Linked DNA regions of Homo sapiens. The protein of the gene in region 2 purifies or fractionates together with the protein of the main gene of each other region. This does not show direct contact. Each region holds a gene or a part of one and is shown on either strand. Other genes may lie near its edges.

Region 1 (3,500 bases), on a different chromosome or scaffold from region 2:
ATGGAGTTTACATTTCTTTTTTCCATTCTCCTTGTTGCTTTGAAGTGGTTTCAGAGACAAGAAGGGGAGAATGTCAAGTATACTCTGCTATATTCAATCTGAAATTTCTCAGTAGGAACAACTTTTATTAAAATCAGAACCACTGTCACCTTATGATTTTCAAAGCCCCATCATGTGTAACTTCTCCCCTATATATGCTGTACACATGCTAGTCATTAGCAACTTAAGCTTAAAAAGGTTAAATGGCTTACCCAAGCTCTCAAAGCTAGTTACAACCCAGGTGTCTTGATTCCTGGTCCGGCACTCTTATCACACTGCACATCCATGCAATGGCCACTGAACTCAACTAACCTTCCTTCTAAATATACGTATTACCAGAAGCTAATCTCTAAGAATTATACTTAGAAAAGAGCAGGAAACCACATAACTGACCAATATCAGGAATGAGGAAGAAAGAAGACCAAGAAACTGGGATTAGTTCCCATTACCTGGCTTAGTATCTGTCACTCCTTCCATAAGGACCAGTCCTACTGGTCGCTGACAAGCGATGCTGCAGAAGCGGAAACGTAGCAGGAAGTCTCGGCCATACTTGCGTCTCTCTGTAAACCAGGAAAAGACATATAGTGAAAGAAAGACGATGAAGCCACATGCTGAGACCTCCTTAGTACCAAGCAACTTCCAGCATAGGTACACAGAGGAAGCATTCAGAAGACAAGGAGATTTTCCAAAGGCTATGATTTAAAGTTGTCCATTTCATTGGACAGCCATTGGGAGGATAGTGAGAAAACAGAGGAATCTGCTAAGAGAAATGAGGGATTACACTTTTTCTTGTCGTTGAGACACCAGCTTTCTCCCAAAATGGGCATGAAGACACAGCCAACCAAGAATGTGACATGTGCTCACCTGATCTCTTGGGGTGACAGGAGGTGACATACTGACAGCAATCAGTGATGCCCAGGGAGCTGGGCCACAGTGGGGCCTGCAGCTTCCTCTGGTAAAGCTGATGGGAGAAGTCTTCCTGTCCAGATACCTGGGTGGAAAAAGAAGGGTGGGAATAAGGAAACCAAGATAGAAAAAGGAAGTAACAGCCCATGTTTTGGGACATGTGGACAAATACAAACACATACAATCACACACTACGTACATGGTATAAACAAGCATATAAGTCTCAGGGGCAGGTTAAAAATAAGGACCAAATTAAAACCATTACTTTTTCACTGGCAACACTGAAATGTCCATGAAACAGGAGGAGGGGTAAGAGACTGAATCAAGGGGAATCGAATAGTATGAACATGTGGTTCCCTAAATTTTACCTCTGAAAAATCAATACAATTCTCCTCCACAGGGAATATCAACTCTCAGGGGCTTTAAGTTGCAATGGTTAAAGGTTTATCCTCATCTTTGGATCTTCTGGATCAAGGTCTAATATCCTGAACCTATTACTGGGTAACCACAGGGTCAAACCAAATGGGAAAGCACCAAAGCACTTTACCGTATCTACGTCACCATCCTCGGTCAAAGCCAATGAGCAGCCTGGGAACGGACAAAACGTAGTAGGGGAAACATTCGGCAACATCAGTCATCTGCACATCTCCAACGTGTGTAGCAAAAGTCCCTTTATGCCATTTAACAACAACAAATATTTGAAAGCCAAAAGACACTAGCTAGGTGCTGGGGATAGAGCAGCAATAGACAGAATCCCCTTGCCCTGTAAGGGCATAAATTTTCAATATGTCATCAGAAGTAAAACAGATCTGCAATTCAATGGCCACTTAATAGCTGTGTGACTTTTGGCAAGTTAGTTAACTCTCTTGGGTTCAATATCTCCTACTATAAAATGGGATAGGCCAGGCGCAGTGGCTCACGCCTGTAATCCTAGCACTTTGGGAGGCTGAGGTAGGTGGATCACCTGAGTTCAGGAGTTCGAGACCAGCCTGGCCAACATGGCGAAACCCCGTCTCTACTAAACATACAAAAATCAGCCGAGCATGGTGGCACACACCTGTAATCCCAGCTACTTGGGAGGCTGAGGCAGGAGAATCACATGAACCCAGGAGGCAGAGGTTGCAGTGAGCCGAGATCGTGCCATTGCACTCCAGCCTGGGCAACAGAGCGAGACTCTGTCTCAAAAAATAAATAAATAAATAAATAAATAAATAAATAAATAAATAAAATGGGATAATAATACCATGTACAATTAAGAATCTTAATAATCACTACCGGTTACTGACTTTGAGCCAGATACTGGAAAACACTTTACACGCATTATTTTATTTAATCCACCCAAAAAAACACCTCTGAGGCAGGTCCCATTATATCCCCCATCGTATAGATGAGGCAAATGGGGTTCAAAAAAGTTAAGTAATTTGCTCAAGGTGGCAGAGCACGGATCTGAACTCAGGACTGTCTGGCTTCAAAGCAAGTGCTCTCATTCACTATGCCTAACAGTGCCTGTCATGTGGCAGGCAGTCAGTAAATTCTTTTCCTCGTTCCCTGAGTTCCTTGATTACAGCTCCTTTAGGGCAAGATCATGCCTTTCTCTGCACACATCTGGCTCATTTACATAAAATCCCATGTGCGCAACAGTAATACAATCGTTTTGTGTCCTTCCACCATTGTGCCTTGCCAAAAGTTAGTCAATAAATTGAAACAGTAGGGGCAAAATAGAGGAACAAGGAGATTAAGTGACATAAAGAAATCAGCACAAGCTGATAAAACTACGAGGTGTTTGTCATCAACACTCAACAGTTAGAAGGAATGAGATCCATATGCAAATTGCTGAGTGAAAAAAAACAAGCTACAAATGAAACATACAGTAGTGTATCATGTTTATAAAACACACATGGTAGATTACATATTGGCTGTTATAAGCAATGACAGCACAGTATTTGAGGGTAAGAGCTCTGCAGCCAGACCACCTGGTTACAAATCCTGGCTCCACCACTAACTACCCGCATAACCTAGGGCAAATTACTTCACTTTTCTGAGCTTTAGTTTCCTCATTTATAAAATGGAAGCCATGATGGAAACTGTGAAAACTAATTAGTTAATGAGTATAAAGTGCTTAAAATAGCACATGGCACACACTTAAGTGCTTAACAAATGTAAACACTGATTACAATATCATAGGAACATAGATATCACTGTAAATGCAAAGAAAACAAGCTAAAAGACTACCACCAAACTTAGAACGGTCATTATGTTACTCTAAGAGAATAGAATAGGGAATGTGGGTAATAAAACAGGCCTGTGTCTTACTGTATAATGTTTAAGTTCCTTCAAGTATGTACTTACGTATTACTTGTGAATTAAAAATATTAATGATAAAAACTGAAAAAAATTCCAATATGCCGAAGTACTCAAGAATTCTTAACTTCCAGGCTTGGGTACAAGCTATTCAACATAACAAGAAAAAGGAGGAGCAGGCCAGAGCAGGTGTACTGAGGTCCCTGCCACAGAAGAAGCACTGATGCTAACGCCTGAATCTCTCTTAGACCATG
Region 2 (2,886 bases):
CGTGCTCGGTTGCTTGTGGATAGCTGTGGGGTCGCTGGCCCATGCCCAGGCCCGGCTGGGCCCTGGGCTGATGGTTGGGTGGGAATTAGGTGAGGGGCCTGGGGCCTCTTTGGGACCCACCAGGCCCCCCATCCCCCTACTGCCCTTGTCCTTGGGGGGCCACTGTCCCCTCTGACCTCGGGTGTACGGCTGCTTCCTGTATGACCAGAAGGAGACTCTGCCCTTTTGGTTGGTGGTTTTCGAGAGTTACCAAGCGCAGCTGTTTTGCATCCTCTGGGGACCCTGCTCCCTTCTCGTGTCTCAAAGAGCCAGCCTCTGGGGCCACGGGGCTGCCCCGGCCATGAGAGGCTGCTGACGTGGTGTTTGCTGGGCCAGTGCTCAGGGCTTTGGTGCATGTGGGCAGCTGAGGCCTGGGTCAGGGGCACTGCACCTCGGCCCCTCTGCTCATCTTGGGCAGGTGACCCAGGTGGAGCTCAGGCCCGAGGTCTGTGCTGGGCCGTGGGTCCCCTTTTGACCGCCCCCCCGGCTCCGGACCCCAAGCCCCTCCTCGCTGACTGTTCCTCGGTCCCACCCGCAGGCCCCCCAAAGATGGCGGACAAGGTGGTCCCACGGCAGGTGGCCCGGCTGGGCCGCACTGTGCGGCTGCAGTGCCCAGTGGAGGGGGACCCGCCGCCGCTGACCATGTGGACCAAGGATGGCCGCACCATCCACAGCGGCTGGAGCCGCTTCCGCGTGCTGCCGCAGGGGCTGAAGGTGAAGCAGGTGGAGCGGGAGGATGCCGGCGTGTACGTGTGCAAGGCCACCAACGGCTTCGGCAGCCTGAGCGTCAACTACACCCTCGTCGTGCTGGGTTAGTCGCTGCTGCGGTCAGAGGTCATGGGCTGGGTTGGAGCCAGGCAGGGGTGTGCAGGAGGGCGGACGGGGACACACCTGGGGCCCGAGAGTCAGCCAGCCCCCGGCAGAAAGCCTTCCTTCGGTGCCCTGCCCCACCTCAGCTGGCTGCACCTCTGCCACCATCCCCCAGGTATCCTGTCCCGTTCCTGTCCCCGTCAGGCTCCAGCCTCGGAGCCTTCCTCCCAGCGGAGGGCGGAGGGTGGAGGGCGGGAGCCGAAGGCAGTGGTCCCACAGAAGGGCTGGGGCCCGAGGCCTTGGCAGGGTGTGCCGGCCGTCGGCTGTGACTTTGAGGCTCGGGTTTCGGAGTTCAGAGGAGCCGCCGGGATGCGTGGCCTTTCTGTTCTCTTCTGCGCCTGGGGCCCGGGCGCTGGGCTTGGACAGGTGTCCAGAGAGACACGCCCTCCATACCTAGGGACCCGGCACCCCGCCTGCTCCGCTGGGCTCCTGGGTGTGGGGCCCTCGGGTGGAGCTCCTGGGAGCTGGGCTGGCCCGTTTCTTTTTTTTTTTTAATTCTACTTTAAGTTTTAGGGTACATGTGCCCGTTTTCTGAATACAGGAGCCTGGCCCAGGCCCCAGCAGGGTCTGGGGGTGCGGCCTGAGACAGCCTGGTCCTGGGCTCAGTGAAGGAGCGGCTGTCACAGGGTGGATGGAGGGGACATTCCACAGCACGCCCTGCCCCTCGGCATTGTGTGGAATGGGAAAACTGGCTGTCCCCCACCCCCACCCCACAGTCCTTTCAAAGGGGACGATGACCGGGTGGTATGAGAGTCTCGTCTGTTCACCAGCCCTCGGCCCCTTGATGTAGGCTAGGGTTACTGCAGCTGCTGGCCGGGCCCGGCTCCCTCCTCCCCCGGGGCCTGCAGACCCCCCGGAGCCAGAATGGGGGCCGGCCCTCCAGCCCCACCCGTGCCCATCAGGGTCACCTGCGCCCAGTGTGGGCCAGCGGCCCTTGCCCAGCTGTCCCTGGGATTCTGGGCTGTGGGTGTGTGGCGCAGCCCCCTGCCTGGGTGTCCAGGGCTGTCCCGGCTGGGGCTGGGGGAGCTAGAGGCCACGGGGGAGTTGGGGGAGCTCCTCAGGGCCCCCCTCACCTGCCCTCCCTGTGCACCTCCGTCTCTCTGCAGATGACATTAGCCCAGGGAAGGAGAGCCTGGGGCCCGACAGCTCCTCTGGGGGTCAAGAGGACCCCGCCAGCCAGCAGTGGGGTGAGCAGGGGGTGACGGGGGTGGGGGGCGTCCGTCTGTCCCGGCCCCTTGGCTGCATCCCCGTCCTCTGACCTCCACGCCACCCCACCCCGCAGCACGACCGCGCTTCACACAGCCCTCCAAGATGAGGCGCCGGGTGATCGCACGGCCCGTGGGTAGCTCCGTGCGGCTCAAGTGCGTGGCCAGCGGGCACCCTCGGCCCGACATCACGTGGATGAAGGACGACCAGGCCTTGACGCGCCCAGAGGCCGCTGAGCCCAGGAAGAAGAAGTGGACACTGAGCCTGAAGAACCTGCGGCCGGAGGACAGCGGCAAATACACCTGCCGCGTGTCGAACCGCGCGGGCGCCATCAACGCCACCTACAAGGTGGATGTGATCCGTGAGTGTGGCCCCGGGCGCTGGCGGGCGGGGGGTGCTGGTGGGCGGGGGCGCTGGCGGGCGGGGGTGCTGGTGGGCGGGGGCGCTGGTGGGCGGGGGCACTGGCAGGGCTTGGGGGTGGTGGGCTGGGGGTGCTGGTGGGCCCAGGGTGCTGGCGGGGTAGAGTCCGGCGCGGCCCAGGAGCCATGCCCGCGTGCCACGTTCCCACAGAGCGGACCCGTTCCAAGCCCGTGCTCACAGGCACGCACCCCGTGAACACGACGGTGGACTTCGGGGGGACCACGTCCTTCCAGTGCAAGGTGCGCAGCGACGTGAAGCCGGTGATCCAGTGGCTGAAGCGCGTGGAGTACGGCGCCGAGGGCCGCCACAACTCCACCATCGATGTGGGCGGCCAGAAGTTTGTGGTGCTGC
Region 3 (3,500 bases), about 72 Mb from region 2:
TGTTGCTGATTAGAATGAGCTGATGAACTCCCAGAAGAACTGCTGCTGTTTGGAGGTCTAGTGTTTGTTGTTTCTACTACTGGTGGACTACCTGCTTCCTGTTCGGAGGAAGATGCCACTTTATTTGGAGATGCTGATCCACAATCCAAAGGGCTGTTTCTAGAAACCCCTCCTGGCTGGGCTGGTGGTGATGGGGAAGATGGGGATGATACTGGATAGTGTTCTTTGGCAGTAGGCATAGGATATGTGGCATTTGTGGGTGCAGTGTTGTTGTTGCTTGCCGTGGTTGTGACTGTTGTTGTGGTGGCATTGGATGTCTTCACAACTGTGACAAAAAGCTGCCTTCGGACAGAAGGTGAACTTGGACTGCCATTTGTAGATGTACCAGGCACCGTTGAAGCTGATGAACTGGTTGTAGTTGTTGGGCTTGAAGTTAAAGAACCTGCTGAATTCACCTGAGAACCACTGCTATTCTGATTGCTATGGCGAGGCACCATGTGAGGCTTAGGCGAGTTAGTAGCTCTGGCAGGGCTCAAAGGCCTGACAGGAAACGGACCCCAAGTGGATTGAGCTGGTGGAAAAGTACCTCCAAAGTGGGTCATGGGCAACCTTGGTGGACGGATCTGCTGGAAAGTCTGAGCAGCAAGCAAAGCATGTGCAAACTGTGGAGGAGGATATGCTAATGGAAGAGAAACTGGAAAACCAGGCCTCACATTATTCACTGGGTTCTTAATGGTTTTGTGAGTGGATGCAGAAGAAATTGCAGGCACAGTGAGTGCTGTGGCAGTTTGAGATGTTGATGACAGAGCTACAGTTGTCATTTTAATTCCCATTAAGGAAGTGTTAGCAGCAGTGGTGGTAGGTGCTGATGACCCTATTTTGGAATTTGCTGAGGAGCTTTTCAAACGATTCTTTGGAATAAGTTCATCAATTTCTTTGTCTGGATCCTTGATCAAAGCATTAATCAATTGAGTTGCTTGTCTTGTTGATTCAGTGCCACCCCTATAAATTGAGAAAAAAAAATTAGGTAGAATTTTCCCTACTTTTGAGTATGTAAAGTGTTTTTAATATGTATTTATGTACACAAACACACACACAGTTTTGTGTGTATATACATACACACATACAAACAAAGGACAGATAACAAAAGCTGGGCAGCAATTTTCTTACCATTCCTGAGGTATTCTACAAACAAAGCAATAAACTGTCCTGAATTACTACTTTTATTTTTCAGAAGAATAGTAAATGACTTATTTTTCAAAAATACATTTCACTATTGTTTCCTTAGACTAAGAAACCATTTTCCTACTGTAAAATACACTACAGTTAGAAAAACCACTGCACATAAAAGCCTATGTAATCCACAATGTTATTGAAACATTTAATCCTAAAAATATTGAAACAGTTAATCAACACTAAAAATAATAGAAGTAAACAAGGAAAATAATACAACTGAGTAAGAAAACAGTATTTTATTTTAAATCTTGGTATCTGGGATGACTCCGTCTACTAAAAATTCATTAGTAGTTTGTCTATTAATAGGATAATTATTGTAACTCCTCTGGGAAGATGTCTTAAAATGATGCAGGAATCCTGATAGTGCCAAAAATAGCCATATAAAACCTTAGTGCTGGATCTTCAGGAAAATATTTGATATTTATGGAAACTCAAGGGAGCAATTACCAATAAAGGGTATCTGGTTCCCTCTTTTCTAGATAAGATAGGCTGTGACTACCCAAATACCCAGGGGAAAACCAGTCAGAAGGAGAGGACGATGAATAAAATAGAGATGGCTACTTGCTTTCTTATTTTTGAGGTATGATGTAACTATTAGCTCTCCTATATAATGCAAAGGGGCATCTGCCTCATACAAACTTATATCTGCCATGTAAAAAATATAAAACTCTTTTTCAAAGGAACATGAATTTACTTTAAAGTAATTAAATATAGCTTCCTACATTCTTATGATTTCTTAGAACATCACTTTTATTTTAAGAATATTCAGGCATAGACATATTCGACGAGTTATTCAAGATAAGTTATATCTTCACTTCAGATTCAAATCTGAACTCAAATTCTTTTTTTTTTTTTTTTTTTTGAGGGAGTTTCACTCTTGTTGCCCAGGCTGGAGTCCAATGGCTCGATCTCGGCTCACCGCAACCTCTGCCTCCCAGGTTCAAGCAATTCTCCTGCCTCAGCCTCCCGAGTAGCTGAGATTACAAGCATGCACCACTATGCCCGGCTAATTTTGTATTTTTAGTAGAGACGGGGTTTCCCCATGTTGAGGCTGGTCTCGAACTCCTGACCTCAGGTGATCCGCCCGCCTCAGCCTCCCAAAGTGCTGGGATTACAGGCGTGAGCCACCGTGCCCAGCCCAAGAACTCAAATTCTAAAGACACAATCTCAGAATAACAAATCTCAAAGGTTATTTGAGAAAGACAAAAACCCACTGCTTAAAATGTTAGAAATGCGCTCCCTAAAAGTCTCAGAACAAATTTTTAAGAATGTCATATAAACAGTTTATGTACAGAAATTATTTATTTAAACCTTTGCTACACATGCATACAAATTCCTATAAAAGTCTCTGAAACACTTCACAAAAGTGTATTACCTAGGAAAAAAGAAAACTATAAAATTTATCTTCTCAAACACTAATAAAATTCCCATTTTAAAAAGTATACTATGTAACACAAAGTTCCACTGAAAACTCATATGGCTGTATTTCATTAAGCTATAGTGCAATAAAATAAAGGAAGAAAATGTAAGAGACAAAGTTTTGCCTTATAGTGATTATCCGGTCTCCAGTCTTGTCTTTCTGTTTATCAATATCTATGTGTGCACCAGTAAACTCCCGAATAGCATTGATATTACAGCCTCCTCTTCCAATCACTCTGGATATCACAGTTGATGGAACAGATACTTTCTTTGACCTGTTTAAAAGTTGTATATATAAATTAAGATTAGTCATTAACAATAGTTATTGTAATTTTTAAAAGAGGAAAGAGTATTACTAAAATGTCTTTCTATAAATACAGAATATTGTTGAATAAGCCTCTTCTATTTACTCTTACTCTAGATGAACAGAGAAAAGGCAATCAGGAGCAACAGACAGATAAGCTTTATTATAGCTTCTCATCTCACTATCAAAGATTGTTTGCTTTGTTGATTATCATTCTTCACTTGTATCGGTAAAGCACATACTATGTAGACACGTGCTGTGCTAATGCAAATACTAACGGTAAATAAGACAGACATGGGTTTCTGCCCACATATATTGACTATCTACACGCTAATTATGAAAACACCACCATGTCATGAGTGTTGCAATAGTATGTGTGTACACACACACAAATGTATTATATATACATATATGTATATATAGACATATATATGTATATACGTATAATATATACATGTATATATGTGTATATATATATATTATATGTGTGTGTGTATATATACTGGTTGGGCATCTAATCTAGCCTCAAGAGTCAAGAAAG
Region 4 (3,500 bases), on a different chromosome or scaffold from region 2:
ACTCACTATGGCCAGATCCCCTTCTTCCAGTTGTCCTGGACCCTCTCTGTGTGGACTGTCCATGACCAGAGTGGCCATGTCCAGTGGCCTCTCCTGTCTGTCCATAAGTAGTTTCATGTCTCTCATGAACTGTGGATTCTGACTCTCCATGTTGAGATCCAGCTTGGCTGTGAGTTTGTTCTTGTGAGTGTGGTCTATGTGAGACCCCTGAGTGCACTTCACTGTCAGTGGCATCACTGTGGCTAAATCTCTGTCTTCCAGATGTTCTGGAACCTGTCTGTGTAGACTGTCCATGACCAGAATGGCCATGTCTAGTGGTATCTCCTCTCTGTCCATGAGTAGTTCCTTGTCTTCTGCGAACTGTGGATCCTGACTTTGGGTAGTGAGATCCAGCTTGTGTGTGAATGTGTTCTGAATGTCTGTGTGAGACCTTTGAGTGCACTTCACTGTCACTGTTCTCACTTTGGCTAGATCTTCGTCTTCTAGTTACCCTGGACCCTGTCTGTGTGGATTGTCCTTGACCAGACTGGCTATGTCTAGTGGTATTTATTGTCTGACCATGAGTAGTTTCCTGTCTCCCATGAACTGTGGATCCTGACTCTACTTGTTGAGATTCACCCTGGCCCAAGCCAGTTGATTGACCTGAGCCTGAACCATATTGGCCAAATCCAGTGGACTGACCTGAGTCAGATATATGTTGTCCAGAACTAGAGAAATTGTCTGAGCCAGACACATGCTGTCCAAAACTTGTGGTTGGACCTGAGCCAGACTCATGTTGGCCACAGCCAGATGATTGACTGGAGCCAGTACCATGTTGGCCATAGCTAGACTGACCTGATCTGTACTCATGCTGTGCAAAGCCAGAGGATTTACCTGTGCCTGACCCATGTTGTCCAAAGCCAGAAGACTGACCTGAGCCCGATCCATATTGGCCAAAGCCAGAGGACTGACCTGAGCCTGGCCTGTGTTGTCCAAATCCAGATGTCTGTCCTGAATTTGACCCATGTTGACCATAGCCAGATGATTGACTTGAGCCAGAACCATGTTGGCCATAGCTAGACTGACGTGATCTAGACTCATATTGTCCAAAACCAGAGGATTGTCCTGAACCAGTCCCATGTTGTCCAAAGCCAGAGGACTGATCTGAGCCTGATCCATGTTGTCCAAAGCCTGAGTATTGGCCTGAGCTTGACCTGTGTTGTCCAAAGCCAGTTGTCTGTCCTGAACTAGACCCATGTTGACCATAGCCAGATGACTGACTTGAGCCAGAACCATGTTGGCCATAATTAGACTGACTTGATCTAGACTCATGCTGTCCAAAGCCAGAGGATTTTCCTGAGCCTGACTCATGTTGTCCAAAGCCAGAGGACTGACCTGAGCCTGATCCATGTTGGCCAAAGCCAGAGGATTGACCTGAGCCTGACCTGTGTTGTCCAAATCCAAAAGTCTGTCCTGAACTTGACCCATGTTGACCATAGCCAGATGACTGACTTGAGCCAGAACCATGTTGGCCATAGCTAGACTGATGTGATCTAGACTCATGTTGTCCAAAACCAGAGTATTGTCCTGAGCCAGTCCCATGTTGTCCAAAGCCACTGGACTGACCTGAGCCTGATCCATGTTGTCCAAAGCCAGAGTATTGACCTGAGCTTGACCTGTGTTGTCCAAAGCCAGATGTCTGTCCCGAACTTGACCCATGTTGACCATAGCCAGATGATTGACTTGAGCCAGAACCATGTTGGCCATAGCTGGACTGATGTGATCTAGACTCATGCTGTCCAAAGCCAGAGGATTGTCCTGAGCCAGACCCATGTTGTCCAAAGCCAGCGGACTGACCTGAGCCTGATCCATATTGGCCAAAGCCAGTGGATTGACTTGAGCCTGACCCATGTTGTCCAAAGCCAGATGTCTGTCTAGACCCATGTTGGCCATAGCCAGATGACTGACTTGAGCCAGAACTGTGTTGGCCATAGCTAGACTGACCTGATCTAGACTCATGTTGTCCAAAGCCAGAGGATTGTCCTGAGCCAGACCCATGTTGTCCAAAGCCAGAGGACTGACCTGAGCCTGATCCATGTTGGCCAAAGCTGGAAGACTGACCTGAGCTTAACTCGTGTTGTCCAAATCCAGATGTCTGTCCTGAACTTGACCCATGTTGACCATAGCCAGATGATTGACTTGAGCCAAAACCATGTTGGCCATAGCTAGAATGACCTGATCTAGACTCATGTTGTCCAAAACCAGAGGATTGTCCTGAGCCAGAAACATGTTGTCCAAAGCCAGAGGACTGACCTGAGCCTGATCCATATTGGCCAAAGCCAGTGGATTGACTTGAGCCTGACCCATGTTGTCCAAAGCCAGATGTCTGTCTAGACCCATGTTGGCCATAGCCAGATGACTGACTTGAGCCAGAACTGTGTTGGCCATAACTAGACTGACCTGATCTAGACTCATGTTGTCCAAAGCCAGAGGATTGTCCTGAGCCAGACCCATGTTGTCCAAAGCCAGAGGACTGACCTGAGCCCGATCCATATTGGCCAAAGCCAGTGGATTGACCTGAGCCCAACCCATGTTGTCCAAAGCCAGATGTCTCTCTAGACCCATATTGGCCATAGCCAGATGATTGACTTGAGCCAGAACCATGTTGGCCATAGCTAGACTGACGTGATCTAGACTCATGTTGTCCAAAACCAGAGGATTGTCCTGAGACAGACCCATGCTGTCCAAAACCAGAGGATTGTCCTGAGACAGACCCATGCTGTCCAAAGCCAGAGGACTGACCTGAGCCTGACCCACATTGTCCAAAGCCAGAGGACTGACCTGAGCCAGACCCATGTTGTCCAAAGCCAGATGTCTTACCTGAGCTAGACCCATGCTGGTCATAGCCCAAGGATTGACTTGATGTAGACTCATGCTGGCCACAAGTTTGACCTGAGCCACATACATGTTGTTCGAACCCAGAGGACTGACTCAAGCCTGTTCCATGTTGTTCAAAGCTAGTAGACTGACTTGAACCAGACCCATATTGATCACATTTGGAAAATTCATTTGAACTAGAAGAGTTTGAAAAGCGGCCACAGGAACCATATTCATGTTGACCATTACTACAAGACTGGCTACCTCCAGACCCATATTGTCCACAGCAAGAGGACTGACTTGAGCCTGTTCTCCATTGTCCTCCACAGTTCTGTGGTTGACCATTTTCTCTAGCTCCATATCCTCTCTGACTATAGGACTGACTACAGGGGTTAGACTCAGGTTGACCACATCCAGAGGGCTGACCTCCTGAGACACAGCCATGGCCTTGTCCTCCCTTAATTCCTGACTGACAGCCTGACTGAATATAGCTAAATTGATTTCCTTGCCCTCCAAATCTATGTGACTGACAAGAACTTGAAGCATTTTGTGGCCTTCCACACCCACTTGAATTGCTATAACCACATGCATGACTTCGCCTCCCACTGTCTCCTGAACCTGAACAGCTAGACCCAAGCTTTTGT
Region 5 (3,500 bases), on a different chromosome or scaffold from region 2:
CTATTGAAAATTATTTGTTATAAGCCTTTGTTTGTGTAAACAGTGATTTACTGAAGAAAATGGAAATGCTGGAATTTTGAAATGTTAAGGACATTTTAGTTTGAGACGTTGAAGTGTTGGTGCCCTGAGTCATAAGCATGACATGAAGAGGCACGGGCTCCTTCCTCATTGTGAATTCCTTTCTCTTGTGCTCAGGAGTTCAGGGTTGCTGCTATGAAAATATGCTTCAGTCATGATTTTGTCAGCATACTGTTATACATCTGATCATCTTTAGTTATGAAGATTTAAATCTCTTGTGTTCTAATAATTCCAGGTTTGATAACTGATCTGTCTTGTTTATTATGTTTAGCTAATTGAAATTTATGGTCATTAGATCTGGTACTAGAGCTGTTAACATATTTGCTTGCTACATATGTAAACTGGATCCTACTTTTTTTTTTTTTTTTTTACAAGGGGTACATTAAGTTATTAGGAAATTTTAGTATTTTATTGATTTTTCACTAAATTTCAGCATTTGTTCCAAGGTGACTAAAAATAAAAGAAGAAACTGTATACTAGCATCTGCAGTGCATTCCTAGCAGCTGAACTAGTTGTTTTTGTCTTCATAAAAATAAGATCGTAAGTTTTACAAAGGGCCAACTATTCAAATTAAGGATTGTCATTTCAGTGGTGCAGTAGGGTTCCATTTATGATTTAATTCTTGAAATATATTTCAAATTAAATAAGATTTTACTACATTGAATAGAAATTTGATGAAATACTGCCTGTAAACAGAGTCTTACTTTCCAACAGATTATAAAACCTTTTATCTTATTTTGCTTTGCTTGCATATCTCCTTGAAGGAGAGTTGGTTCTGACTTCTACATTTTGTCTTAATAAATATTCAAGAAAATATTCTTTCTTGACAGTAGGATATGTTATTTTTAAAATCACTGATCTGGTAAAATTTGAGGAGAAAAATCTGAAAATTAAATTTCAAGCCTTACCATTAAATCATAAGATGTGAGATTTTATGTTATTTAAAAAAAATTTAGTATTTGGAGCAACATTACCAGAGCTGAATGATTAAAGCACATGAAAAAGGCAGACAGATGGTTGGTTGAAATGTTCTTTTTTGCTGCATGAAAAGTTATAAATGCTCATAGAATGACAAATGTATTACAGTGAAATAATTTGACAGTATTTCACTTGTGTATATAAATGAACTACTGACAAAAACAAATTGCCTGCAGTCCAAATTCAAAATTTAAAATGAAGAGCTTAAAGTAGAATAATCAAGAAGGAAATGATTTTCCTCTATTTCATATTATTATGAATAACGTTGGTTCGTGTATTTAGAGAAGGCTTATTTAGCCTATCAGCTGGAAAGACTTAATAGATCTACAAAAGTGAACAGTTTATAGCCAATATCTGTTTATTGATGGACTGATTATTTATATTGCTGATAGGAACCAGCCTAATTAGAAGTCCACTGTCTTTAATTCAGCTGAGTGAGTTGGCATGGTAGCTGGACAAATGAGAGAAGAATGAATAAGGCCCTGTCTCAGTTTGTTTTATGCTGCTATAACAAAAAACCTGAGACTGGGTAATTTCTAAAGAATATAATTTTATTTCTCACATTTTTGGAGGCCAGGAAGTCCAAGATTGAGTCACAGGCAGGTTTAGTTTCCTGGTGAGGGCTGCTCTTTGCTTCTAAGATGGTCTGTTGTTGCCGCATCCTCTGGAGGGGAGTAATGCTGTGTCCTTACTGGGCAGAAGGTGGAAGGGCAAGAGAATGGAAGACTGTGAAGCCTCTTTTGCAAGGGCCTTAATCTCATTCATGAAGGGAGGAGCCCTCATGACTAAATCTTAAAGGCCCCACCTCTTAATGCTATCATATTGGCCATTAAGTTTGAACATCTGAATTTTGGAGAGGACACATTGAAACCATAGTAGGGTGGTTCCAAAATCATAGGTTGGCAGAGCTAGGCATCACCCAACTTTATTCTTGGAATGGGTTTTCTGCAAGTTTTTAAAGCCTAGGTTGAGAATGTGGTCAAGAAGGATGTGGGGGAAATTAATTAGTAAAATATGAGGGCAGAGAGATAAGGGGCAGAGTGGAAGGCGGAGACCTGATTGTGTAGGGCCTTGTAAAATCATTGTTAAGGTCTTTGATTTTACTCTGAGTGAGAAGGGATGCCATTTGGAGAGTTTTGAGCAGAGGGGTGAAATGATTGTTTACCCTTTAAAGGGACATTTTGCCTCTTGAACTAGGAGTGGACTGCAGATTTGAGGCAAGGACCAGCAAGGAGACTATTACAGTAATTCAGGCAAGAGAAGGTGATCCGATTGGTGGTAGTGGAGAGAAGTGGGTGAGTTATGGATATATTTGAAAGGTAGAGCCAATGAGATTTGCTGATAGTTTGGATGTGATATGTGTGTGGGAGAAAAGATATCAAGGGTGGATACAAAGTTTTTTGCCTACACAGCTCGAAGTTTGGAATAGCTGTCAACTAAAATGAAGAATATTGTGCAAAGAGGAATTTTTTTTTAAAGGGGGAAAGGGACCAAGAGCTTGTGCATGTTAAGTTTGAGATGCGATTAGGCATCCATGTGGAGATACTAAATAGGCAGTTGGATATCAGAGTGTGGAGCTTAGAGGAGGAGTCAGGCTAGAAGTATAAATTTGGGAGTCATCAGGTATCATGGGATTGGATGAGACACTGAGGAAGTGAGTGTAGAAAAAGGTCAGAGTCAGTCAGTCCTGGGACATTCCTGGAGTAATTGTGTCAAATAATACAAATAGGTCAAGTAAGATGATTACTGAGAAGGGAGTTTTGGATTTGTCACTGGGTGGACTTTGGTGACCGTGACAAGCAGTTTAGGTGCACTGGTGGGGCTGAAAGCCTCATGAGTGGGCTCAAGAGAGAAGGAAGAAGAAGAATTGTGGTTAGTATTTTTTTTTTTTTTTGAGACAGAGTCTTGCTCTGTCGCCCAGGCTGGAGTGCAGTGGCGTGATCTCGACTCACTGCAAGCTCCGCCTCCCGGGTTCACGCCATTCTCCTGCCTCAGCCTCCCGAGTAGCTGGGACTACAGGCGCCCTCCACCACGCCCAGCTAATTTTTTTTGTATTTTTAGTAGAGACGGGGTTTCACCGTGTTAGCCGGGATGGTCTCCATCTCCTGACCTCATGATCTGCCCACCTCGGCCTCCCAAAATGCTGGGATTTACAGGCGTGGGCCACCGCGCCTGGCCATTAGTATATTTTTAAGTATAGAAGAGCAGAGAAATGGAGCAGCACTTGGAGAGGAATGTTATGTCAAGGAATTTTTCCTTAAGGTAGGAGAAACTGTATTATCTTGTTTGCTGATGGAACCAACTGATGTAGAGGAGAGAAAATAGATGATGCATTAGAGAGAAGGAAAATTGCTGGAGAATTGCTGATATCCCCTTTTTCTTCTAGAAAACTTACAGATACAGGTTAGCTGAAAAATAACAACCCTAATTTCAATATCCAGAAG
Region 6 (3,500 bases), on a different chromosome or scaffold from region 2:
TGACATCATTCTTTAAGTATACAAGATGGCTTGCTTCTTCACAACAACTAAAACAAATAGGCACAGCCCTAGAACTCCACCAGAATTATTTCTATAAATTAAATGTTCCCATCTGTTCCCCTGCACTTTAACTCCTACACAGCTAAGCTTCTAAGCAGTTTCCATTTCACTCTAAGTTTAAGACACATATTTACTATAATAGCAGTCAGCTTAATAACTAAAAGTAAAATACAAGTAATTCAAGTTAATTACTTAATGACATCAGTATTTAAGATACCTCCCAAAGTCACTACTTACAGTCATGAGTGGGACTCACTATTAGTGTCCTGCTACCTATCCCTACAATATATTTCCATTTTCCTATAAAAACAACTGTATAAATCACGTTTGAAGTGCTGCACCTTTAATTAGAGCTATTTCTTAAAAAGGAATAAAATTGGCATTCTGGTACCATTCTGGATTTTATACCAACAAAAAATCTTTACAGGCTGGGCACAGTGGCTCACGCCTGTAATCCCAGCACTTTGGGAGGCTGAGGTGGGCGGGTCATGTGAGGTCAGGAGTTCGAGACCAGCTTAGCCAACATGGTGAAACCCTGTCTCTAATAAAAATACAAAAAAATTAGCTGGGCATGGTGGCACACACCTGTAAACCTAGCTAAAAGGGCAGGCTGAGGCAGGGGAATCACTTGAGCCTGGGAGACGGAGGTTGCGGTGAGCCGAGATTGTGCCGCTGCACTCCAGCCTGGGTGACAGAGCAAGACTCTGTCTCAAAAAAAAAAAAAAAAAAAAACCTTTGCATCTAAATCCTTATTTTGAATAGCTAGTGCACAATATTTATTCAAATATAATTTTTTTAAAGATCATAAATATAACTCACCCAATAAAGATATAGAAGAATTTGGCACCAAAAGTACAAGTGACAATTTTATGATAGGGTAAAGAGTACTCACTGTTAGAAAATGGTCACTAATAGTTCCTTAGTAAGTAAAACCTCTGAACGGCAGTTCAGAGAAATCTGCAAATGGCACTGAGAAATATAAGCAAAAATGCTCATTTTCACTCATAAGATAAAAATAAAAGCTACCACGAGATATCATGGTATCTCACTATCAGACTGGAAAAAACCCAAAAGCTGACAACAAATCTTGACTGAGGGTGTGGACAGACACACACACATATACTGCTGCTGGAAGGCCAAATATGACAATTCCTAAGGAGGGGAATCTGTTAATATCTAATAAAATTATGTATGTATTTACCCTTGATCCAACAATCCCACTTCTAGGAATGTGTCCTAGAGACACAGCTCCTTAAACATGAAACAGTATACAGTTATTCACTGCAGGATCCCAACTGTCCACCCACAGAAGACTGGTTTGAACTGTATTACAGTCACTACTGAGTACTATGGAGCTGGAAAACGAATGACAACCTCTCTGAACTAAGAAAAAATATTTCCTATAAATCAATTCTTAAGTTTAAAAAGTACAGAAAAATGTATATAAAATACTTCCATGCAGCAGGATGGATAATAAGAGTAGACATAAAATGTTAACACATTTTTAGAAAAGAAACACAGGGAAAAAAAAATCCAGAAACTAATGAAAATGGTTACCTATAGGAAGTAGCTATGAATAGGGTATAAGGAGAAGATGAGATCAAGATTTGGAGTATATATTTTTTAAAATATAGTTTTAATGTTTGAACCATATAAACGTTTTACATTCAAAATAAAACAAATTAAAAATGTAGGCCAGGCATGGTGGCTCATGCCTAAAATCTCAGCACTTTGGGAGGCCAAGGCAGGAGGATCGATTGAGCCCAGGAGTTTTGAGAGGAGCCTGGGCAACACAGCGAAACCTCACCTTCACAAAAAAATTACCCGGGCATGGTGGTGCGCACCTGTAGTCCTGGCTACTCAGAAGGCTGATATGAGAGGATTTGCTTGATCCCAAGAAGTCAAGGCTGCAGTGAGTCATGACTGTGCCACTGCACTCTAGCCTGGGTGACAGAGTGAAACCCTGTCTCAAAAAATGTAGAGTAAATCCCAGTAATATAAATAGAAAAAAAAATTAATTGTATGCCAAATTGGTAACACAAATATTTCAAATAACTTTAAAGCTTCACACTGGGAAATATTTAAGCATAAAAAAGCAAATAAATCTCAAATTCTGCTCAATTTGTTTACTGTTAATAGTAATACTGATTGTCTAATTTTCTTACTTTTTATACAGTGTGCCCTCACTTAAAATCATCGACAGGTTTTTGGAAACTGACTTTAAGAGAAACAACGCACACCAGGTCCTCAATAAACATTTTGTTCCACATCCTTTCTTTTTTATTTTATTGTTTATTTATATTATACTTTAAGTTCTAGGGTACATGTGCACAACGTGCAGGTTTGTTACATATGTATACATGTGCCATGTTAGTGTGCTGCACCCATTAACTCGTTTTTTTTGTTTTTGTTTTTGTTTTTGTTTTTGTTTTAAGACGGAGTTTCGCTCTTGTAGCCCAGGCTGGAGTGCAATGGCATGATCTCAGCTCACCGCAACCTCCACCTCCCAGGTTCAAGCGATTCTCCTGCCTCAGCCTCCCGAGTAGCTGGGATTACAGGTTTGCACCACCATGTTGGCCAGGCTAGCCTCGAACTCCTGAGCCACCGCACCCGGCACATTAGGTATATCTCCTAATGCTATCCCTCCCCACTCCCCCACCCGACGACAGGCCCCGGTGTGTGATGTTCCCCACCCTGTGTCCAAGTGTTCTCATTTTTACAACATCCTTTCATTATAAAGTTGATGAGGAAAAAAACTGGTTTCATTATCCATCATTTCATGTTAAGTGAGAACTTACTGTATATTATAAAGGAAACAATACACTAATGTAATTGGAGCCAAAATTTTTCCTGTAAATGATGAGAGATTAAACATAAACACAGAAGTGAAGACAAAAGCTCTATACTGCTAAATTTGGACTGGAAATACTACATAAACTCAGGATTTCTAATGTACTTTTTACTTTCATTTACTGAAGCCTGATATATATGAATTCATGATATAATGAACTTTATTTTATACACAGATGCATATATTTCCTAGCTCTGTCCACTGAAAAAGGCCCAGAAGGAATAATACTCCAGCAGCAGGTAGGCTTTCCAAAGTCCAATATAACTGCTAGAAGAAACCAGGAGTTTTAAAGAAATGGGTGATTCCAAATCTTGAAACAATAGAGGTTAAAAAGTGAGACCATGGCAAGTGCTAGATGGTTATGTCAACAGGACAGGAGCTGGCTTGAACGGGCTCTCCCAGGCCAAATTTGAAAAATGTCAACATCAAAAAGAATAATGACTATTACTTATCCTAACAAATTGAATCAGAAAAAATTAATCCATGAGTCCACTGTGATTCCAAAGAGTGGGAGGGAGGGAAAAGAGAAAACAAGAAAAGGCCAGGCATGGTGGCTCATGTCTGTAATCCCAGCACTTTGGGAGGCTGA
Region 7 (3,500 bases), on a different chromosome or scaffold from region 2:
GATTAAAGAGGAAAGAAAGAAATGACAGTAATTAGGATTACATGCCAATCACAGCACTTTAATCACAGCAACACAAATCCCTGGACTTCATTTTTTTGTGATAAGTTCTGATTGAAATTAGAAAATATTAAAGTTAGAAAAATTAATGAGCACATTACCAACAGAACCAAATTTAATTTGACAATCTAATGGCCTCAATTTAGTCTCATTTTTTGAAACAAAGACATAAAAAGAAGTAAAAACACATAACCAAGTACAAAGGATTTAATCAGAAAATTATCCAATGGTGATGTATTTGAATTCAATTATGGTTACCCCCTACACAGATGTGAACTCATAGAGGAACTGAAATCCTTCCTACAAAGCTACACAGTGACTGTGACAATGGTGATGCACACCAGGCTACTGTTCAGAATGAGTTTATGGCCAGTAAACTGTGGTCAGGAAACTTACTGCAAAGTGGGGACTCATCTGTCCCATTGGGGCAGTCAAAGATGCCATCACACACTACACTCAGATTCACACAGATGTTATGGCCAAGACACTGCCATTGCCAACTAGGACAGCGAAAGGGCTGAGTAGGGCAGTCCTTCTCATCACTCATATCCCCGCAGTCATTGTCCCGATCACAGAGCCATGCCCTGTGGATGCAGTTTCCGTTGTCACAGTGGAAATATGATGAAGGGCAAGTCTTGGGGACACAGGCATTGTGCTCATCAGATCCATAGAGGCAGTCTGGATGCCCATCACATTCCCAGAAGTTCGGGATGCAGATACCATCTTCTTGGCACTGAAATTCATCTGAGTGGCACATACCAGGAGGCCTGGTTGCTAGAAGGAAAACATGGGGTAAATCGGCTTGTGAATGTAATTTGTGATCCCTTTTATAGTCTAGACTCAGAGGAAATGATTTTGGATCCAATAGTAGGTTTATAGTAACAACTATGACCAAATTAATATTTAAGGCTAAATGATATAGAGTCTTCTCCCACACTCTAGTACATAGAAATATTTCTTTGTGGCAGCTAGTGGCTCTGACAACAAACGAAGTACAGAACGCACAACTGCTGACTAGCAGATGAGTACCTGTGTCAAAAGAACATCCTGTTTCCTTTTCCTGTGTTTTTAATGTACTTCCAATTGCAGATTCAATAATAAAGTTTATCTATCTTTCTATGAAAGAATCACCAGAACATTACAATAGAGCTTAAATAGCTATGATTACTTTGAACTTCATGTGTTTCATATCATGTTTGGGTGTTATTATTTTCCCTCAGATGAACTATACCTAATGAAACCATCACACACTAACTAAAGATGATGGTAAATACTCAGTTCTTTGCAAACTTTCCACTATTCATCAAGCAATCCTGGAGAGATACGTAAGAACTGCTTCCCTATTTGACAAGGGTAAACCAAAACTCTCTACCAGGGATCTCACAAGGCAACAGCAAGCCAGCGGCAATTGACAGTTTAACCTCAGCTCATCACAGAATTTTATGTTTTTAATGTGAAACAGGAAAATTAGTGATTAGTAATTTCTAGATGTTGTGCAAACTATAAAGTATATAAGCATTTTATTTAACTTTTCTTTTTAATCCATGGCTTTACACACTACCTTTCTGACGCAGGAGGAGAATTCATGAAAACTTACTTTTTTGGTCTAAAACACCATTGTTCAAACAAATGATCAACTCACTGATGAGTTTTTGCAAGTCTAAAATCCATTTAAAACAAAAAGTGGGCAAATAACAAATCATGTGAGTATAGGTTTCCAGTCTGTGAAGATTATAGATCCATCAGAATTATACTGTATGAAGTCCTACTTGAATCCTCCAACTAGAAGAAATTTCTTTTCTCTGAACCTCCATAGAATTTTATCTGTGCCATTTCTAAGACCCTTGTAACTGTCTATCTTGCTTAATTGTCTCTTGCCTTCTATAATCTCCATAGATAACATCTTAGCAGATATTCAACACATAATAGCACAAAGAATGAATTCATCAGAGTCAATACTAAACACAGCTCCATACCATTTCTACACCATGATATGACTTCTCTACTGAAACTTAAAAGAAACCAGTAAAATATCTTTATATGGAGTAGAGCCTCAAAAGTTTAAACCTACTAAAGTGGGAAGTCCTAAGAAAAACTAAAAGTGAAAACAAAAATATCTAAGAAATATTTAGCCCATCTAAGAGACTATTTGAAGTGTCCATTTATACAACCACTTGATTTGTTAATTACACATTATATGGCAATGTCTACTCAATTTTACTGTATGTTCAATACCACATTCCTTTGAGGATACTTTCCCCCAGTTTGTCTGAGTTAGGGAAAATGTGTGGCAATATCAATATCAATACTGGCAAAAATGAAATGACCCCTTTGTCTGAAACATTCTGGGTATGTGTTACTTACGACAGCCTGCTTCATCCGAGTTGTCACTGCAATCAAAAACACCATCACAACGATTTGTGACGCCAATACATTTATCCCCACTGGCACACTTGAATTGAGAAGCAGTACAGTTTAATACTAAGAATGAAAGAGAAAAGCATTAGAAATTAGCTCAGGGCTAAAATGACTAAACACTGAGATTTTTCTTTTTTGTTGTTATACTTTAAGTTCTGGAGTACATATGCAGAACATGCAGGTTTGTTACATAGGTATACACGTGCCATGGTGGTTTGCTGCACCCATCAACCCATCATCTACATTAGGTATTTCTCCTAATGCCATCCCTTCTCTAGCTCCCCACCCCCCAACAGGCCCCGGTGTGTGATGTTCCCCTCCCTGTGTCCATGTGTTAACACTGAGATTTTTCTAAATAAACATTGTGAATAAAAAAGAAGGCAATGCACTTACCACAACCAACCTCATCAGATCCATCAACACAATCCTTGTCACCATCACAGACAAACGATAGGTCAATACATCGATGATTGGGGCAATTAAACTGACTAGGTTGGCATGTCTCTGTCGAATCTAATGTCATCCGAAAACAAAACCAACAAGTTTATTTCCTGTGCAACAAGTACCAGAGCCAAACTAAAAATGGCTAAATAGCTACAGAAGTTATCTCAATTGTACATGGGTTCAAAATTCTTTTGAATCAGCCACACTATCAAAGTCAGCTAAGCAAAAGAACTCAAAACTAGGATAGGTTTTAGAATTGAGAATAAAAAGATTACAGGGCAGAGTCAGAAACTGTGATTACACCTTGGAAAATAGACCACATTCAGAAAGTGAGCATCATGTGCTTGGACTTGGACTACATTTCATGAATACTATGAAGTCCATGACTCTAGACCAAAGCCAAGCAATGGAGCCCAATCAGGCAACAAAACCAGCATGACCCACATGCCTAGTAGCAACAGTGTGTAGACAGACCCCCAAAACTGGATTTAAAAGTCTGAACAGAACAATTCTAAAAACCAGGGTCCTACCTTACTGTTAAGACCATAGCCTTGGAGTCGGATGCAGTGGCTGGCCCCACC

Evidence for each region.
Region 1: the proteins of FGFRL1 (region 2) and ANGEL1 purify together in Homo sapiens (affinity purification with mass spectrometry; one large-scale study listed by BioGRID and IntAct). This does not show direct contact.
Region 3: the proteins of FGFRL1 (region 2) and ANKRD17 purify together in Homo sapiens (affinity purification with mass spectrometry; one large-scale study listed by BioGRID and IntAct). This does not show direct contact.
Region 4: the proteins of FGFRL1 (region 2) and FLG2 purify together in Homo sapiens (affinity purification with mass spectrometry; one large-scale study listed by BioGRID and IntAct). This does not show direct contact.
Region 5: the proteins of FGFRL1 (region 2) and AP3B1 purify together in Homo sapiens (affinity purification with mass spectrometry; one large-scale study listed by BioGRID and IntAct). This does not show direct contact.
Region 6: the proteins of FGFRL1 (region 2) and BACH1 purify together in Homo sapiens (affinity purification with mass spectrometry; one large-scale study listed by BioGRID and IntAct). This does not show direct contact.
Region 7: the proteins of FGFRL1 (region 2) and LRP2 purify together in Homo sapiens (affinity purification with mass spectrometry; one large-scale study listed by BioGRID and IntAct). This does not show direct contact.

The regions. Positions count from the first base shown.
Region 1 is NC_000014.9:76,802,883-76,806,382, forward strand, and holds part of ANGEL1 (protein angel homolog 1), read right to left. Parts: intron 2,121-3,500; coding exon of another isoform or gene 2,003-2,120; intron 1,534-2,002; coding exon of another isoform or gene 1,493-1,533; intron 1,031-1,492; coding exon 904-1,030; intron 600-903; coding exon 489-599; intron 1-488.
Region 2 is NC_000004.12:1,021,626-1,024,511, forward strand, and holds part of FGFRL1 (fibroblast growth factor receptor-like 1 precursor), read left to right. Parts: intron 1-577; coding exon 578-850; intron 851-2,015; coding exon 2,016-2,096; intron 2,097-2,191; coding exon 2,192-2,476; intron 2,477-2,685; coding exon 2,686-2,886. UniProt on the Homo sapiens protein: Has a negative effect on cell proliferation.
Region 3 is NC_000004.12:73,091,299-73,094,798, forward strand, and holds part of ANKRD17 (ankyrin repeat domain-containing protein 17), read right to left. Parts: intron 2,931-3,500; coding exon 2,781-2,930; intron 1,003-2,780; coding exon 1-1,002.
Region 4 is NC_000001.11:152,353,507-152,357,006, forward strand, and holds part of FLG2 (filaggrin-2), read right to left. Parts: coding exon 1-3,500. UniProt on the Homo sapiens protein: Essential for normal cell-cell adhesion in the cornified cell layers. Important for proper integrity and mechanical strength of the stratum corneum of the epidermis.
Region 5 is NC_000005.10:78,284,699-78,288,198, reverse strand, and holds part of AP3B1 (AP-3 complex subunit beta-1), read left to right. Parts: intron 1-3,500. UniProt on the Homo sapiens protein: Subunit of non-clathrin- and clathrin-associated adaptor protein complex 3 (AP-3) that plays a role in protein sorting in the late-Golgi/trans-Golgi network (TGN) and/or endosomes.
Region 6 is NC_000021.9:29,336,922-29,340,421, reverse strand, and holds part of BACH1 (transcription regulator protein BACH1), read right to left. Parts: intron 1-3,500. UniProt on the Homo sapiens protein: Transcriptional regulator that acts as a repressor or activator, depending on the context. Binds to NF-E2 DNA binding sites. Plays important roles in coordinating transcription activation and repression by MAFK.
Region 7 is NC_000002.12:169,240,535-169,244,034, forward strand, and holds part of LRP2 (low-density lipoprotein receptor-related protein 2 precursor), read right to left. Parts: intron 2,989-3,500; coding exon 2,869-2,988; intron 2,539-2,868; coding exon 2,422-2,538; intron 832-2,421; coding exon 454-831; intron 1-453. UniProt on the Homo sapiens protein: Multiligand endocytic receptor. Acts together with CUBN to mediate endocytosis of high-density lipoproteins. Mediates receptor-mediated uptake of polybasic drugs such as aprotinin, aminoglycosides and polymyxin B.